2 separate regions of the Homo sapiens genome follow, and region 2 is reported to be linked to region 1. Evidence: microRNA targets listed by miRTarBase, many of them from high-throughput screens and not tested one by one. Region 1 holds a microRNA gene; the other region holds the end of a gene's coding sequence.

The links. Region 1 holds the annotated microRNA hsa-miR-6818-3p (UUGUCUCUUGUUCCUCACACAG, at 3,239-3,260, shown strand). A microRNA usually pairs through its seed, bases 2 to 8, with sites in the 3' UTR of a target mRNA and lowers its output. Matches are read on the target gene's strand: a 7mer-m8 pairs with bases 2 to 8, a 7mer-A1 pairs with bases 2 to 7 and ends in A, and an 8mer does both.
Region 2: miRTarBase lists ACAD8 as a target of hsa-miR-6818-3p. The part of its 3' UTR that is shown has no 7-base or 8-base seed match.

Annotation. Positions count from the first base shown.
Region 1 is chr22:30,003,854-30,008,119 of GRCh38, forward strand. MIR6818 (microRNA 6818) reads left to right here and starts at 3,196; the gene lies at 3,196-3,260. MTMR3 (myotubularin related protein 3) reads left to right here. Exons shown (of 20, transcript NM_021090.4): 10 at 3,261-3,466; 11 at 4,048-4,179.
Region 2 is chr11:134,264,464-134,268,729 of GRCh38, reverse strand. It overlaps ACAD8 (acyl-CoA dehydrogenase family member 8), which reads right to left. Exons shown (of 11, transcript NM_014384.3): 11 at 2,875-3,822. The coding sequence ends at 3,770. Among named protein-coding and RNA genes, the nearest start is that of GLB1L3, 9.8 kb to the left of the region's middle.

The DNA.
Region 1 (4,266 bases):
GTCATCTCTTTGTAATGTTTACATTCTCCATTTCATTTTCCCAGTTTGCCGGCTTTTTGGACTCTCCCTGAGTTGGGCCAATCCAGTGGCTTACAGTTAGAAACTTCATTCCACTGAAATATTGAGATTGTAGGAAGGGATTTGTCTCCTTGTGGAATTCCTACAGAGGTAACCAGCTTGTTCATTTAGTCTACTAAAGGCAAACTCTGATGCCCACTCTGAATGGAGAGAGATGGAAAAGTATTTGCTCTGGCCCAGTGGAACTCATTACGTTTTTAATCTCAATTCTCATCACTGTTGTTTTCAGACACCCCTAGAAAAGTCAGTCACCAAATTTACCTGTCATTCAAGTGGTAAGGATGCTACAGGAACTAGAGAGTAGTGAAAGCTGAAGGGATTTATGAGTCTTATCAATGATCAGCTCAGCTGGAATGGGGAAAGCAGCCAGTTGCTGCTCTGGCCAACAACTGTGTTAGGTCAGCAGCCCTGGCATCTGTGGGGCTTGCTGACTTTGACCAAAAGGGGGAAGGTACTCTTATTTGCAAAATAAGAGGCTTTAGGTGAATTCTCCCTTTGGGAAGAGAAGCTTAAGAGGGCTGGTTGAAGAAAAACTTCCTTTTTTTCTAAATTTTATTCTAGAGGGCATGCACCTTCTAAAATTAATTCTAGAGGGCATGCACCCTAGGTTTTCCCCCCCTTTTTCTAGAGATACAAGAGGATATATAAATGAAAAATTTTATTTGCAGTTTTTCAGAGAAAGTCTTTCAAAAGATCACAAAGTTCTTGGTGTAGTCATCCATGCAAAATCAGGCAGGTTTCCTGGAACTGGGCTCTGTCTCAGAACATGTGTCTTGTATCGCTGAGATGCAGACTGGGTTGCTGTAGTATTTGGGAGCTTTGTAAGGGGCGTGTGGAAGAATCGGATCCTCCACCATGCTCTGCTTTGCCAGCCTAGGTGGCAGGATGCCTGGAACTCTTGACATCCATTTCCTGAATTTAGTTGTCTGTAGATTGGGTCATGATTCCTGAGGTTGCCAGCAGCAGTTACTTGACAGCACCATGCTGAACCAGCGCTTGATTAGGGCTTTGTCCTACTGTGATGAGAGAGCACTTAATTGGATTTATAACTGAAGGTAGAGATTGCTCTAACATAGCAAGATGATGTAAAGGGCACCCATCTGTAGTGCAGTTCACAGCTTTTTCCTTTGTGCATGTGGTGATTATTCTAAACTCCTAGTTACTTAAGGGAGCTTGCCTAAATCTAAGTTGAGGTTACTTAAGACAATTCTGTTCCTATATAAAATTGAAGCATTCTGTGTTTTAGTAGGGAGGGCTTTATCTGTTGGACATCATAATTTTTATACTTTGCCTGGTTCTGTTAGTGATAGAAATGCATTCCTTTAGTGATTTTTAACTGTAGTGTTTGAATTATCTTTCATGTAGTCTGAAGCATTTTAGAAGACTGCAGAAAACATAATTGTTTATTGCAATAGTCCAGTTGAAATCTAATAGCTACTATAATGCAGTGTCCCCTAAAACCCAAGATCCAGGCTGAAGAGCGCCATCTACTGCTCCTCTTGGGCACTGCTGGGAAGCATTGAAGAAGAGGAGGATGTTCAGGAAAGGCCCAACCAGCCTCTTGTGCAGGGTTTGGAGTCATTCAGCTCAGTGGTTGCCTGTTATTTGCTAGGAGACATTTTATAAAGAATCATTGAGGTTTTATTTCTATTTTGGCCCCATTCAGCACGTGAGCCAGTTGAGCATGTTGGCAATACACAAGTACTTACAGCTACTTGTCTCCCAGGGAGGGAGGCTTTAAAAACTACAAGCAAACTGGTGATTTCAGTGGAATTTGATTAGTGCCAAATTTAACTTATTTGTGAGTTTTAGGAGTAAAAACAAATTACAGTACATTTTCATCGTCCCAAAAAACCCATTCACAGGGCACCCAGCCACCCTAGCCCTGAATAATTAAGATGTCCAATGGATGAAGCCCCTGCTAGTAAAACATAGAGTGCTTCAGTTTTATATAGAAACATACTCGTTTTAAGTAACCCCAACTTAGAATTAGGCAAGCTCCCTTAAGTAACTACGAGTTTATAATAGTCACTACATGCAGAAATCTACTTCCATCTTTATAGATTCGCCTATTCTGGATACTTCATGTTAATTGTCGTACAATAAGTTGCCTTTTGTGACTGACTTCTTTCACTTGTCATAACATATTTGAGGTTCATCAGTGTCCTAGCCTGTATCAGAACTTTATTCCTCTTTACTGCCAAGTAATAGAATTTTTCTAACTTTTTATCAGTTAAAATTGCCTAACTAGGAAAAGTCTGGGTTTTAATAGCACCTTAAAGTAGACTGTGATTTCTGGTCTGTCTTATTGGAAAAGGATATGTCAGAGTATGGTTTTCTGAGGTTGATGCTCTTCTTCTCTTTCTTAAGAGCCCTAGGAAGGGTAGCTGGCTCATTGAGCTATCTGCCTATTATAAGAGCAGTCTGTGACTCATGAAATCTCAGGAGATTTTGTAAAGCAGTTCACTGTGGGCCAGGTAAATGTTTTATTCCCAGAGGCGGGCTCTTGGTTCAGCATTAAGAAGGTAGCAGATTTCACTATTGGGTAGCAGAATTAGTGTAGTACCTATAGATTTAAGTTACGAATATTGATTTATTTTCACTAAGAGTACACATTAATTCTTTTTTGTTTTTTGGAAATGGGGTCTTGCTCTGTCACCCAAGCTGGAGTGCTGGAGTGCAGTGGCACAATCATAGCTTTCTGCAACTTCAGCCTTCTGGGTTCAAGGGATCCTTCCACCTCAGCCTCCTGAGTAGCTGCGACTACAGGCATGTGCTACCATGCCTGGCTAATTTGTAAAAACTTTTTTGTAAAGATGGGGTCTTGCTATGTTGCTCAGGCTGGTCTTGAACTCCTGGGCTCAAGTGATCCTCCTGCCTCAGCCTCTCAAAGTGCTGGGATTGCAGAGTGAGCCTCCATGCCTGACCCCTGTTAGTCATTTTTTTGGGTAACTTTACAGGGATCTCCGTGATGTTATGGTAATTGAGAAAGACACACAGGTTTTGTTGTTTGTTCTTGTTGGTTGTGTAAGATTTCTACCCTCTTTAATACTGAGAGGACTTGAAGCTGACCCAACACTTACCTAGAATTAGACTGTTCATTAAGGCACTTAAAATCTATTTTGTGTGAGTACAGAGAGCATCTGAATGGGTACAGTTGTTGTCTCTTGTTCCTCACACAGGCACCAGAGCAATGGAGCTGTCATTGCCCGCTGTGGACAGCCAGAGGTTAGCTGGTGGGGCTGGCGAAATGCAGATGATGAGCATCTGGTACAGTCAGTAGCCAAAGCTTGTGCCTCTGACTCCCGATCGAGTGGCAGCAAGCTGTCAACTAGGAACACTTCTCGAGACTTTCCCAATGGGGGAGACCTTTCTGACGTGGAGTTCGGTAAGGTGCTCCCTGGACCCATGGCAATGATTTTTATAGCATCTAAGAACCTTTTCTTGAAATGGCCTCTTCCTTACAAGACATAGATTTACTTTTATAGAAGTGAATGTGCAGAGCTTCACTTGATGGGATTGATTGAGGAGTCATGGGTCTTGGCAGAGAATCAGAAGACCCTTTGTTTCAAACCTGAATCAAGATATTAGTGTGTTTGTTGTCTTTCTTGCCATTGTGACAAAAATGGAGTGTTTATGTAATAGAGGACTTGCAGTATCTGCAGACCATGGCAGGAAATGCCAGGCTTCATGAAAGGACAACAGATACAGAAATGAAGTATAAGAGACTGGGCTGTGTGAACCCCATGTGTACTCTGGGAGTCAGTTTTGGAGAATAAATCCTTCTCATCTTTCATAAGAAGGCCACATAGAAAAAAAGAGAAAAATCCTATGTATCAAGGGTTTTGGTTAGGGGATTTCATTTTATTGAGCCTTTTTTGTGCCATAAGATGTGCTTGTGGGTCTAATTCTGCACAGTTCTGGGAGAGACAGGCTCATTTAGTATGCCCTCTCCCTCTGTGTCCCTAGATTCTTCTCTGTCAAATGCTTCAGGAGCAGAGAGTTTAGCCATCCAACCGCAGAAGCTTTTGATCTTGGATGCACGCTCCTATGCAGCTGCTGTGGCAAACCGAGCCAAAGGAGGAGGCTGCGAATGCCCAGGTGAGGTGTATGGTGCTTTGTTCCCCATACTTTCTCCTTGTGAGTGTAGCCCTTGCCCAACTGAGACTTAGTTCCCAATTTGAAATA
Region 2 (4,266 bases), not on the chromosome of region 1:
GCCCTTTATTCTTCCTCTTGATTCACCAACCATGCTATGAGGTAGGAGCTTTTATGATCTCCAATATACATGGGGAAACAAGCTGAAGAGAGTTGTGGTAATTTTGCTTAAAGCCGAAAGCGACCCAGTGACCCAGCAGTCCCATAGATAGTTTTTTGGATAAACATAGAAATTGACCTTCTGGTGTTAAAGCTTGAACCTTATATTTGTTTTATCTGAGTTCCTTCCTCAGAGACCTTCAGGCCTCTCAAAACAGGTATCAAAGAACTGGAACTCACCAGATCACTACATCCAGACGAGATGCCAGACCCCTCATTCATCACAATTGCTTCCGTGCCCCTTCCTAGTTCCTGCTTTCTTAACACATTGGTACATTTCTTCCCTGGTATACGACTCCCTAGTTTTAGTCCCTCAGGGAGATGGATTTGAGACTGAGCTCCCATCTCCGCGGCTGCAGCAGCCGATTAAAGCTTCTTCCTCTCAATACTTGTCATCTCAGTCATCGGCTTTCTGTGCGGTGAGCAGCAGGACCTAGACTGAACCCCTGGCATTTCGGTAACAAAGCCACACAATTAGTCAGTGGCAGAGCAGGCAATCACATCTAGATGTAGGAGTCTGGATCCGGGGCCCAAACTGCGGCTGCTGCCAGCACTGGTAGTTGCTGTTTTCCTCAAGTCAATTTCACGCTAGGATTTCTTGACTGTCTCCTCTGTGCAAGAACCCCTCATAAAAACCGAGAGATTGATACATGGAAAATGCTTTGGAGGAATCTTAGTGTTTTTAAAGTAAAAGTATCATTGGATCAGCACTAAAGTAAAAAAGGCATTTCTAATTTATCAAATCTATAAAGGAGGAAGAGAAAATTTTAAGATCCTGTAAATATTCTTGTGTGTGTGTGTGTGTGTGGGTATACAGTTAGATTTTCCTCACAACTGTAATAATTGGAGGCAGTTTGAGGAATTATTAGGATTAAAACCACGTGGAAATCCAATTCTGACCTAAGTCATTGTGTTATGACCGCAAGGCCTCTCATGCCTCAGAGCACGTGGTGTATGCCTTTGTCCTTGCCGCCTCCTACTGAAATTGTGTCTCCTGTTTCCCAGCCCCCAGTCCATTAGGTCTGTCCAGCGAAGTTGTATTTGGTTACCTGCATGTGTTCTGCACCTATACAGCCCCTGACACACAGGCTTTTCCTTAAGACATTTGTTGCTCTGGTTTTCTTGCTTTTATTTATTAAACAGACAAATGAACAATGATATAAATTAGCTCAAAGTTCACGACGTTCTTGCTACGTTCGTCAAATCCCTTGCCAGGGTACTGGGGAACTGAAATCTCTAAATAACTGAGAGTGATACTGAGAAATGCACTTTTAATATGATTTCACCAAAATCTTATGAAGGGGACACATAGGAAGACATTAACATAGCATTTGTTTTTGCTTTGAGTCAAAATAGAAGCCTCTCAGGCCTGGAATGCCAGGAAGCAGCCTGACTACTAGCAAGGTCTTCAAGTTCCACAGCAGACAGGTCTGCATTTGCTAACACTTGTCTTTCCTTCCACCTTCCACATCCAGCGTGAATTGCCACATTCCTTGACTATTTCAAGAACCCATTGACTGGTATGTCTTCTGTCTTGCCTCACTCATATTCATCCCACATGTGCATTCCAGAGTGCTCTTATGAATGAATCAATCTCCTATCTTCCGCATTAAAAACCTTCCATGGCTCTCCACTGCTTACCAAATAAAGCCCCACCCTTGGCTTTCATAACTCTCCATCCGGATTCAACTTCTATTTTCCTTCTGTCTCATGCCAACCCCAAACCACAATTAAACCAAAGTGTAAACAGCTTTTACATAAATCCTGTACTTTTCCTGCTCCTGGTTCCTTCCTGTCTGAAATTGACTTTCTTGATTCTAATTAGACGTTTTCATAAAATCTTTTCTTCTTTTCTTCAGAGACAAGGGTCTCACTCTGTCACCAAGGCTGGAGTGCAGCGGTATGACTGTAGCTCACTGCAGCCTCAAATTCCTGGGCTCACGCAATCCTCCCACCTTAGACTCCCAAGTAGTTAGGACTTCTGGTGTGAGCCACCATGCCTGACCACATTCTCATAAAAGCTTAATTTGAATCCCTTCCTCCCTCATCACTTTTATAGGTTGTCGCCTTCTCAGCTTTATACAGATCTATATCATTGCCTTGCAATACAGCTCTTAGCTCCTCTTAAATAAGGCCTTGGGCGGCAGGAATACATTTTAAACTTTGTAGTGTGCCCACACCCTGTCCTCCTGCAGCACCCAAAACTTCCTTCATTCAAAAAAGACAGTATTTGTTGTTGTTACAGACACATATTCTCTTCTCTCTAAACATTGGCTTGTAGTTAATGTCTTGCGTATTCTTTTCAATAGGGATGAGGGGATGGAGTAACATAGTAAGTTATAACAGAGCTCCCCTGGCTGGGCACAGTGGCTCACACTTGTAATCCCAGCACTTTGGGAGGCCGAGGTGGGCAGATCACTTGAGGCTAGGAGTTTGAGACCAGCCTGGCCAACATGGTGAAACCCTGTCTCTACTAAAAATACAAAAAGTAGCCGGACGTGGTGGCTTGCGCCTGTAGTCCCGGCTACTTGTGAGGCTGAGGCAGGAGAATCGCTTGAACCCCAGAGGAAGAAGTTGCAGTGAGCTGAGATTGTGCCACTGCACTCCTGCCTGGGCGACAGAGCGAGACTCTGTCTCAAAAACAACAAAAAACAGCAAACAAACAAACAAAACAAGGTCTCCTGAAGTCCCATCTGTGAATCTCACTTTAATTCTACTTTCATACATCATAAACAATGCTTAGTTTGCAAAGTTATTAATAATTTAAGGAGCCTGCTTTTTAAAAGCCAAATTGGACGAGAGTTTTATTATTCCAAAATCCAGTTAAGTGTTTAATCAAATACAATTAAACATTTAAAATAAAAATCAACTATAGTAGAACCAGAGGTGGTGAAGGATAGATTTTATCAATGTGATTAAAAATATTTAAAAGGAGGAACAGCTTCAGAAAAGGAAACAAAAACACAAAAAAAATATTCAAAGTGTTTATCAGGAAAAGAAACACTGAATAGCACTCCTAGACCACAGGCTTCTTAACATGAAACCCAACGAATATTCAAAATTCAAAAGTCTCAGCCCTTGATATTGAGGCAGTCCAGAAGTAGAAATACACCCTAAATCACAGCTTAGGAGTAAGTTTCCAAATATCCATTTTATCATGATTTACATTCAGAGGTGTGCTATCCAGAGAAACCTTCTGCATCTGTAGCTGTGGCACAGAGAACGACACAGACAGGAGGGCATTCCTCCATTTCCCCTTCCCACACCTTTGCTCTAGAATCAGGAAGAGCATCAGTGAAAGTCCCCAGGCCCCTAGAGGAGGGATCCAGTGAACTAGTAAAATGCAGACTAATCAAGATAAAGTGGATCCAAGAAAGGACTTTCATGGTTTGACGGTGAATCTTCACTGGTCACCCTTCTGGCATTAGGAAAACAAGGTAGTATGTGTTCTTCTGATGTTTCTCATCAGTCCAGCTCTTCCGGTTCCACTGGGGATTCTGCCCCAGTCCAAGACCCGATGCTGGTGCCAACACACAGGGTGCAGGTCCTGCCCTAGAGGAGCTCAGCCCTTGGGTCTAATCCATGATTCCTTTGGAATAGAGCGGCCCACATGGCACCACTCAACACTGACTGCAGTCGCACTGAACACCAGGCCAGAACAAGTGTGGGTTCTACTCCTGAAGCAGGCTTCTAGAGATCAGTATCCTCATCACTTCATTGCTACCTGTAAGAGGGAGGAAGGAGGAAGAATTTCACAGCAGCAAAGTCTGAGAGTTTAGTAAAGCTCTGACCAGGCTGCTCCAGGCCTAGTTCAGAGTAGCTGCAGATTTAAACTACAATCATTGCTTTTAGCCTGGGAGAGATGAGATTATCAGAGACTTCTCTACAAAGTACTGAAAAATGTCAGGAAATAATACTTTTTTAAAAACTTCTTCTGATGGTAAAAATGCTTATATAAAGTTTAAAAAGGCAGAATAAAAACAGTATATACAGGATAATTCTAATTAAAATTAAAAATGTACCAACAAAGGCAGAGTAAAATGCCTAAAAGGAGATGTACCAAAATAACATTCTGGATGTAGAAACATGAGTGATTTTTTTTCTTTTACTTTTCTTTTGAGACAGTCTTGCTGTCGCCCAGGCTGGAGTGCAGTGGTGTGATCTTGGC